2 separate regions of the Homo sapiens genome follow, and region 1 is linked to region 2. The links come from fine-mapping of genetic effects on gene expression. A gene starts in region 2. The other region holds a variant in brackets. All regions are shown on one strand. Distances are between the middles of the regions.

Region 1 (4,408 bases), 650 kb after region 2:
TACTTCAACTTACTCAAAAACCTGGACCCAACTAAAGTTTCTTGTTAGATATAACACAGTGAGCTACTTAAAGGCAGCATTTTTAATTCATGAGATCTGATTCCCATCATATTTTGCTCTTCTACTCTTATCCCCTAGACTTCCATTTTCTTTCACATTATTTCAGATTCTCCCTAAAGTACAAAGTTTAGTTACCAGTGTTTCCTGGAAATCAAAATGTTTCATCAGAAAAAAATCACCTGTAAAAGGAAGGAATTTGGAAGCTGGTACTGCTGAGGGCTAGATGTACATTCATTAGAAAATCAAGAATATGAGAATGAACAAAAATAAGGGGTGGAGGAAGACAGACTGTATCTACCATATCACCACTTGGCCTTCTTTATTATGTTGACACTAACAAGCTGTCTTAGGTGGTTGTTAGGAGAGGCCACACACTTGACAGGTCTAACTGTTACCATAGGAAAGAATCGGCATTGAATCACCAGGCTCTGCTGGAATTGATTTACTCTGGATGGAGATTTGTATCCAATTTAGCATATTGTGAATAGTGCTTGATGGGCTGTGCAGTGTATTCCCCTGAGAAAAGACTCCTAGATATAATAGCTTATTCAAGATTTGGAGGTAAAGTGCGAGGAGTAGTAACTGATATTGAAATGGGGAGGTAAAGTGCGAGTAGTAACTGATATTGAAATGGCATATAAATTCTACCAAGAGGTACCCATTACCCTGGCCTAGCCCCCATGACCCCTTTCCAACTCCACCGCACCCGCAATCAGGAGATTCTGCCTCGACTGATTAAGTGTAACATAGTATCTTAATTCCCATTTTTTTCTGTCTTTTCTATCTAGGGAAAAAGTCATTTTAACATTCGCTTTCTAAGCCAAATTTAAAGGGTTAAAATACACTGATATCCTATTTGCCAACATAATAATCAGATCCAATGTATACAGTTTTCAGCAGTATTTGAGAACCATAATGATGCCTAGTGGAAGTAAAGTTTTTGCTCAAAATTTGTATTTTTAATCCACACAGCATTCTCGGAAAGGAAAATCGACCAGGGGCTTATGAACTTCATCTCTCAGTTAAGGATTACTGCTTTGCCAGAGAAGATCGAATTATCGGAATGACAGTCATTCAGCTACAGAACATAGCAGAAAAGGGAAGCTATGGGGCATGGTATCCTCTTCTGAAAAATATCTCTATGGATGAAACTGGTTTGACTATCCTTAGAATACTCTCTCAGAGGACCAGTGATGATGTGGCTAAAGAATTTGTAAGACTTAAATCTGAAACAAGATCTACTGAAGAGAGTGCTTGAAACAAACACTGCAAGCTAAATACATAACTATAATTGTTTGACTACTGCATGCATGTGCAAATACATGGGAATGTTTAGTTCACTACATTTCAATGTTTGCCAGTACTCATGTACGATGTCTACAAGGTATGTAAAAAACCTGCTGAACTTTTATACCAATTCTGGTCTTTGGGAAATCAGTGTTCCATGAAGTGCCAAAATTATGATGTAAAGTGAAATATCAAGAACACCTTTTAACATGTTTATTTTGTTTCTTTACCCATTTCACATTCATTAAACATAATTTTTAAAAACTAGTCTTTTGAGTTTGCCCATCAGTTGTCTTTGTTAAATGAGATTATATTGCCCATAGATCAGAAAACATTTATTACTCAATTTCCATTTTATTTACTTACCTCATTATAGATGTCTTACAAATACCCTTTTCTACCATAACTAGAAATGCAGTCACTTCTAGAAAGCATTTGTAATTTTATAGTCGCAGATATTGTGATTTTTGCATACACATTAAAATAGAAAAGGTGGGAAATATTTTCTGCTGACCAGTTTCCAACCTTTCTGAAATATCACTGTGAAGAAATGCTGTTAAAGCAAACTTACATAAAGCAATGCTAGAGTTTGTTAACAATGTTTGATATATATTGACAAAACTTTGTTCTCTAAAACTGCCAAGATCACATCACATTTGTAAAAATGGTAAGTTAATGCATTTGTCATATAGTGTTATGTCTTGGCTTTACCATATTTCATTCTTTAAAAAGTCATTAATGGTTTAGAAATGGGATGGAAAGTTTACTGAAAATACCTGTAAGTAACTATATTGTTAATATCTTCCCTCTGACAGTTATGACTCTATAATCAGTTCAATGCTTTATTTTTAAAAATATTCAATGATTAGTATTGAATGCAGCATTACTATATATTGTACTGATGCCAAAAGTCATGTTTTCATCCACTTAGTGAAAAAATAGTAAAATTAAGTCGGAAGAAATTGCTTAAAATTTTGTAATTTGTATTTATAAGCCCCAAATGCATCAAATGCAGTAGGAGAACAATGTAATACAGCTTGGTACCTAAAAATATAGCTAAGTTGGTTTTTGAATATAAAACAGTTTATGAATATGTGCATTTTCTGTATTGTTATGATTTGACTTTTTAGAGTCTATGCCAAAATATATGGCTGTAAAACAGTACTTTGTAATTATAACTTATGGTCATAACTGTTAGTGGACTACTTACAGAAGCAGAAACAAGAGCCTGTTATGATTGTGCTTTGTGAACAAGCTGATCTAATACGT[T/TAAGTA]AAGTACAGAAGTGCTTAGTATCATGACTGTCAGAACCATTCTGCAACTGAGTATGAAATCACAGACCAGTGAGGTGAGCTAATTCATGTTAAACTGTTAGGCCACTGCTTTGTTAATGACTCCTCTAAATGCATAGTGTGATGCGATCCTCTGGCATATGCTTTAATAAATGGATGTATATTGAGCACATGCAGCATTGTATTGTATCTTCTGCCTTTTTATTTCATTTATGCAATATCATCTCATTTAGGAATAAAAACTCCAGGCTCTTTTGACCATATGTAATAGTCTTCATATTATTTGGTTCTAACATCTCATTAAAAGTTTAGATGTCAGAATGGTTATTATTAAAAAGTCAAAAAATAACAGATGCTGGCGAGGTTGTGAAGAAAAATGTTTGTTTGTTTATACACTGCTGGTGGGAGTGTAAATTACTTCAATTATTGTAGAAAGCAGTGTGGTGATTCCTCAAAGACCTACAAACAGAATTACCATTCGACTAAGCAATCCCATTACTGAGTACACAGCCAAAGGAATATCAAACAAACATTCTACCATAAACACATATGCACGTATATGTCCACTGCAGCACTATTCACAATAGCAAACACATGGAACCATCCTAAATGCCCATCAACAGTAGACCAGATAAAGAAAATGTGGTACATATACACCGTGGAATACTATGCAGGCATAAAAAGAATGAGACCATGTCCTTCACAGTGACATGGATGGAGCTGGAGGCCATTACCTGAAGCAAACTAACACAGGAATAGAAAACGAAATACTACATGTTTGTTATCACAAGTGGAAGCTAAACGATGAGGACACATGGACACTAAGGGGGCAACAACAGACACTGTGGCCTACTTGAGGGTAGGAGGAGGGAAAAGATAAGAAAAAGTATCTGTCACGCTACGAAGCTTACTACCTGGGTGACAAAATAATCTACACCAAAACCCCCGTGACACACAATTTACCTACGTAATAAACCTGGACATGAACCCCTGAATCTAAAATAAAAGTTTTTAAAAAAAAGTTCAGATGTTAAAATTCATTCCACAGGTGGTGTGTTCATGGAAACCACTGTATATTGTAATGACGAGGAAAATAAGGATGAACTAATGTATCTACCTATATATTGCTAAATACCGTTTAGTCCCATGAACAAAATTCAACATGCAACATGGTTAAAAATCTCACATGATAAAAGTTTTCATCAATTACTTGAAAAATTCATTCTAGATTTATGTTATAAATATTTTACAGAACATTGACTTAAGCTCTTTAGGAGCACATATTAATGTCATAATACATGATACATTTGAGTAAAAGGCAGTTAGGATTTGCATTGATCACTTTAAATTGAGCAAGGTATTTTTTCCCTGACATGTTTAATTGCATCCAATTATTCTGTCTTTTACAATGTATACAATATATATCAAAGCCTAATAGTGGCAGGGTGAATTAAGTCTATTTATGACTATCATAAAGTACAGGTACTAATTTTGAAATGATTATAAATTCTGTAGACTCTGTTTTCCTCTCAAAGCACAAGTATTCCCGTTGTCTTCAGAACAAAGCCTGTTATATTTACTTACCCAAATTAGTAGTCACTCTAAGGTTCCCAGTGATCTCTGTCAATTGAGTGTTGCACTAATGTGTGTAGCAATTTATTCATCTTATTCTAGATAAAACACACAAAGGCAAAGCTCTGTTGCTTGTCTATGGATAAACCTCACATTACAGGTCTTTAAAGATACACGTGTAAATCAAATTTAGCAAACACAA
Region 2 (4,408 bases):
AAGCCAAAACATTTCTACTAGGGATTTTGATGTCCCTGCAGGTCAATAAAGTCATAAAGCTCTGTCACTCTAACGGCAACATATTTTATTAGCAGCCAGAGTCCCTCACATACATGTTTCCTGCCACTTTCAGAGATGTAAACAATTTCCATTTTGAAATATATGACCAGAATCCTGATTATTAGAGCTTAGCACTGCATTCATTAAAACACACATGCTGGCATCGAAGCATTCATGAAACATTATTTCTTCTTTCCAATAAAAACTAATGATTACCACCCCTGGTGTGATTCATTTCCTCTACGAGAATATTTGAATTAGAGCAATATTTTCAAACTTTTCATGGCACTACATACATGGTGTTTTTTTTTCTTCTTTCTCTCTCTCTCTCTCTCTCTTTTTTTTTTTTTTTTTTCAGTCTTGCTCTGTCGCCCAGGCTGGAGTGCAATGGCGCGATCTTGGCTCACTACAACCTCCGCCTTCCAGGTTCAAGTGATTCTACTGCCTCAGCCTCCTGAGTAGCTGGGATTACAGGCACCCGCCACCAAGTCTGGCTAATTTTCCTACATACATGTTTTATAGACCGCTCATGGTTAGAATCATCTTTCATTTATTTCCTTCTGTAGGTTTAAACATTTACATCACTGACATTAAATCCAAATTTACTGAAGACGTATGCACATTTACCTTATTCTGGGTGCTAGGGTCTCTCAGCTGACCACAGCTTCTGTACTTTGCAGTGGTTATTTCACACCAAAAAGTGAAAACAGATTCAGTGAATAGGTGTTCTTTTCTCTATGTATTAAAACACGTTCTTCAAAATAGTGTATTGGCTAGCATGAGTTTTTCTGTATAAAAAAGTCAAGTTTCGCCCTATCAGGTGCTTCTAGGTCTAACCGGTTTTCCTGTGCTACTCTCCAGTGTTACAGCCGGGGGCAGCAGAGCTTTGTCCTGCCTGCCACTCCCGTGATGAGTGAAGGCAGGAATAAGACTGCCCTGGTACTTGCCCCTGATGCAGATCATTAGACCTTGAGCAGCTGCTCAGGTCCATTAACAGTCACTTAAGCAGCGGGTAAGGGAAGCTGTGCTGCTCTGAATTAAAGGTGGGGCTGATAGCTGGGAATGGGGAGGGCTCAGCTGCTAGTACCCAACATATATATTGTGTCACATTTGGGGACACTTTTTTAAACATCATGGAGAGGTTATTTATTGGTTGTCACATACGGTAGGTGAAATGTTTTGCCACAAGTTTTGCCACAAAATGCTATATCCGGTTTAACTGTTTATTTTGATGGCAACTATTATTATTGAATATTTAGGTGGAGTCAATTCTAATGTCAGTCAAGACATATTCATCCCTCCATGTACTGAAAAATGCCATACAAATCTGTATATATGCTTCCTATACTGTTTAACCACAGCTGCTAGTTGACGTTCTTCAGTCCTGGAAATATCCTTCCATTTTCTAAAAAGCAAAGAAAAGTAAAATTTTAAGTAAGCAGTAGAGCAGATGTAGCTTAAAACCTCCAAATTATTTCAGGCCTCAAGCTGCTTTAAGGCTGTATTTTAAGATTCAGTACTTTTTTATTTGTTTCAACAGGAGGATTAGAGGATTGAAAATGCTTTATTGATGGAAAGTGGGAACTGTTACTCCCCCCACCTCCTCTACTCAGCAAAACTAAAAGAGAAAGCAAGTCCATTCAATTCCCAGCCAGATCTTTAAAATGTTAACATCAAATGAAAAGACATTATTCCTAAGTGAGAAGAAAAACCTTTGCATCACTGTAAGTTACCCATCATTTCCCACTTTGATTTATGCATGTGTCATTAATTGAAATTGTTCAGGAATCACCTTCAAATGGTTTTCCACAAAAATAAGAGGAAAAACCAACTGGGATGGGATATCAGTATCTCCTCTATTTAAATACAGGGTCCTGTTAGCTGCATTTGGTGGCTAATAGGGAATGATACTGTGTGCGGTATACTTTCATAATTCCAAGTACAGTCAAGTACATCTAAAACAGTCATTGTTGAATAACATGGGTAATTTAGTATTATCCACGCTATTCCACTGGCAGAATTGGCCATGACTGTCTCCTAGGTCATCATCCAGCGATAAAGGGAAGATAGGCTGAGGAAGCTCTGGCATTCAGGCGTCTCCCAGCGATGAAGCTGTGTCCCACACAGTTAGTTGTCAGTGCGGTGGTGAAGGCCACACCTGGCAGTGGCTACAGTGCGTCTCCTGTGAGCAGGGGCTGTAGCTCACCCTCTCGGAGCTACGCCGTGCTACGGCGGCAGGAGAGGGAGCCCGGGCGCTCTCGGTGGAGGAGGCTGGGGATCGCAGTGCCGGTGCTGCATTCAGAAAAGACTCAGCCGCAGCCGGCGATGTGTGAAGTTCCCAGCACGCACTCAGCCCGGCTGCTCCTCACCCTCAAATGTTGATGAGCCTGGGCGCTCCTCAACACACGGGAGAGATCCCATTTTGCTTTCTGGGAGAAAGAGATGAGAAATGAGCCGCGGAAGGTATTTGGCAATGAGAAGAGTGAAAGGCAGTTTCTTGCCAGCAGCTAAGTTGTAGAATTGCTTCGGAGGCTACCCGGGAGTGCGATAGAATTGACAAGAAAAGAACAGACACCGTTGCAGACCAAGGCATGCCTGATTGCACGAGTCGGATCCCTGGGACGCAGCTTCCACTCCTGTTCTAACTATTTGTGATTGAAAAAAGGAAACGAGACTAGAAACACAATTGCAAGTGGTGTTCCTAAAAGGAAAACACATACACTCCAAAAGGAGGGGAAGAACAACCCAGTTGGCGTGCACATTTTTTTTTAAAGGAGAATTCCTCAGGTATGTTCTTTCCTCCGTTGCACGCACTGCTTCATCTGCATGCGATTTTCTGTCTGTATTTTCCTGTCCCTTCTTTTTGTTTGCACTTGGAAATCACAACCATGGGGTTCTCTTAGCGTAGCAGATATATTTGTAAAATCTCGGCTCTCCTGTTTTTATAATGTACATGATTCTATGGAGCATCATGACTTCTCAGTCATTGCTTTTAAAAAAAGAATTCAGAATGATAAATGACTGCTTAGTTTCCAGTCAACTTTCAGGAGAATATCTACATAGGGACAAATAGGGTTGAGATGAAAGGCTGGGATATTCCATAACCCCTCGGAATTTTGGAAGAAAAAAATAGAGCTCAACAGAGAACAAAAGTTGAGGGCTTCTAGGAAAGGGTTAAAAGCCAAGATGTCATACACTAGTGTGTCACCCAAGTGTTTTTCCAGCTCAGCATCCAGTCTGAAGCAAAAGAAGCTTTACCAATGATTTTTTTATTTCTAGCTCTTCATCAGTTCTTCAAGAAGAAGATCCTGCAGATTTACTTTCAAGAGATGAATTGCTTAAATTGTGTGCTTGGTTCTGTTTTACAACTGTTCTGTGGTGCTCAAGGAGGCAGTCTAAAAAAATCCCTTTGGTCCAACAGCATGAGTAAACCCTAACTTCTGCAATTACATCATCAATATACTTGTATCATCAAGAGTAAGACAGATATACAACAATAGTAATGTTGGCTGTCTTTAGTACCTAGACGGAGATGACAACACTTAAAAATCAATTTTCCTCGTTAGGCTTTTAAGGAAAAACAGGAAAGAGGTTTGAGGGTGGGTAATGCTTATAAAGATTAGTTTTAAAATACTCTGCATTTCTTTAAGAAGCTAAAATTGTAAGTTTATATAATTTTGAAATTAATAAAAAACTTAATGATTTTTAGAAAATCATCTTACCACCTTTTGCTCATCAATACTTTTCATAAAAGTGGGTTAAATTGTCAATAAATTAAATGTGCATATGTCTATATTAAATGAGATTTTCTGGAGGGGAGAAACGAGAATGAGAAAGTACTACATTTTTGTATATATAAAATATTTAATAGATTTTTAGTGTTAACACAGAGTTAATGCCAAAGCTCTAGGACCCTGGCTTTTAATTATTGTTGTTCCCACTTTCTTATGATTAAAAAGTTCAAATGCAATAGAGGTAAGTGGGCTTTAAATTGTCATTTATGCATACTGTAAAGTAAATCACCACCCTGCTCTTTGAAAACTATAAACCTCATTTTTGCCAAATGGTAGCTATCTGGAGCACTTAGGCCGTAAACAAAATGAGGAAATCATTTGTTTTAAAATTCCACGCATGACTATAACAACAACAATGTCAAAATATGGTAAGTATAGGCAATTCTTGATACCAGAGGAGTGATTTAGAAAATGAGCAAAGTATTAAGTTTATGTTTGTTAGTAGGGAGTGAAAAACATTGTGTGTTTCTTCTATGTTGACATCTTGTATAAAGAAGCTTATGATGTCTGTAGGTGAAACACTATAGCAGTAATTTTACTGAATCCATTAAGTA

Direction of the effects. Positions count from the first base shown, and alleles are read on the strand shown. Sizes are in standard deviations (SD) of each study's normalised expression.
With allele T in place of TAAGTA in region 1, the expression in cerebellum of the gene that starts at base 2,361 in region 2 is higher (small effect, 0.27 SD a copy in GTEx).

What was found. PIP is the estimated chance that this variant, and not a neighbour inherited with it, causes the effect.
Region 1: its variant is the best candidate, but not a certain one, in a credible set for the expression of UNC13C in cerebellum (GTEx, PIP 0.83).

What each region holds. Positions count from the first base shown.
Region 1 is chr15:54,625,796-54,630,203 of GRCh38, forward strand. UNC13C (unc-13 homolog C) reads left to right here. Exons shown (of 33, transcript NM_001080534.3): 33 at 1,033-2,810. The coding sequence ends at 1,318. Among named protein-coding and RNA genes, the nearest start is that of RSL24D1, 570 kb to the right of the region's middle. The variant T/TAAGTA (reference allele first, on the strand shown) is at 2,617.
Region 2 is chr15:53,976,081-53,980,488 of GRCh38, forward strand. UNC13C (unc-13 homolog C) reads left to right here and starts at 2,361. Exons shown (of 33, transcript NM_001080534.3): 1 at 2,361-2,847. It overlaps LOC124903495 (a long non-coding RNA gene), which reads right to left. Exons shown (of 2, transcript XR_007064646.1): 2 at 1,270-1,465.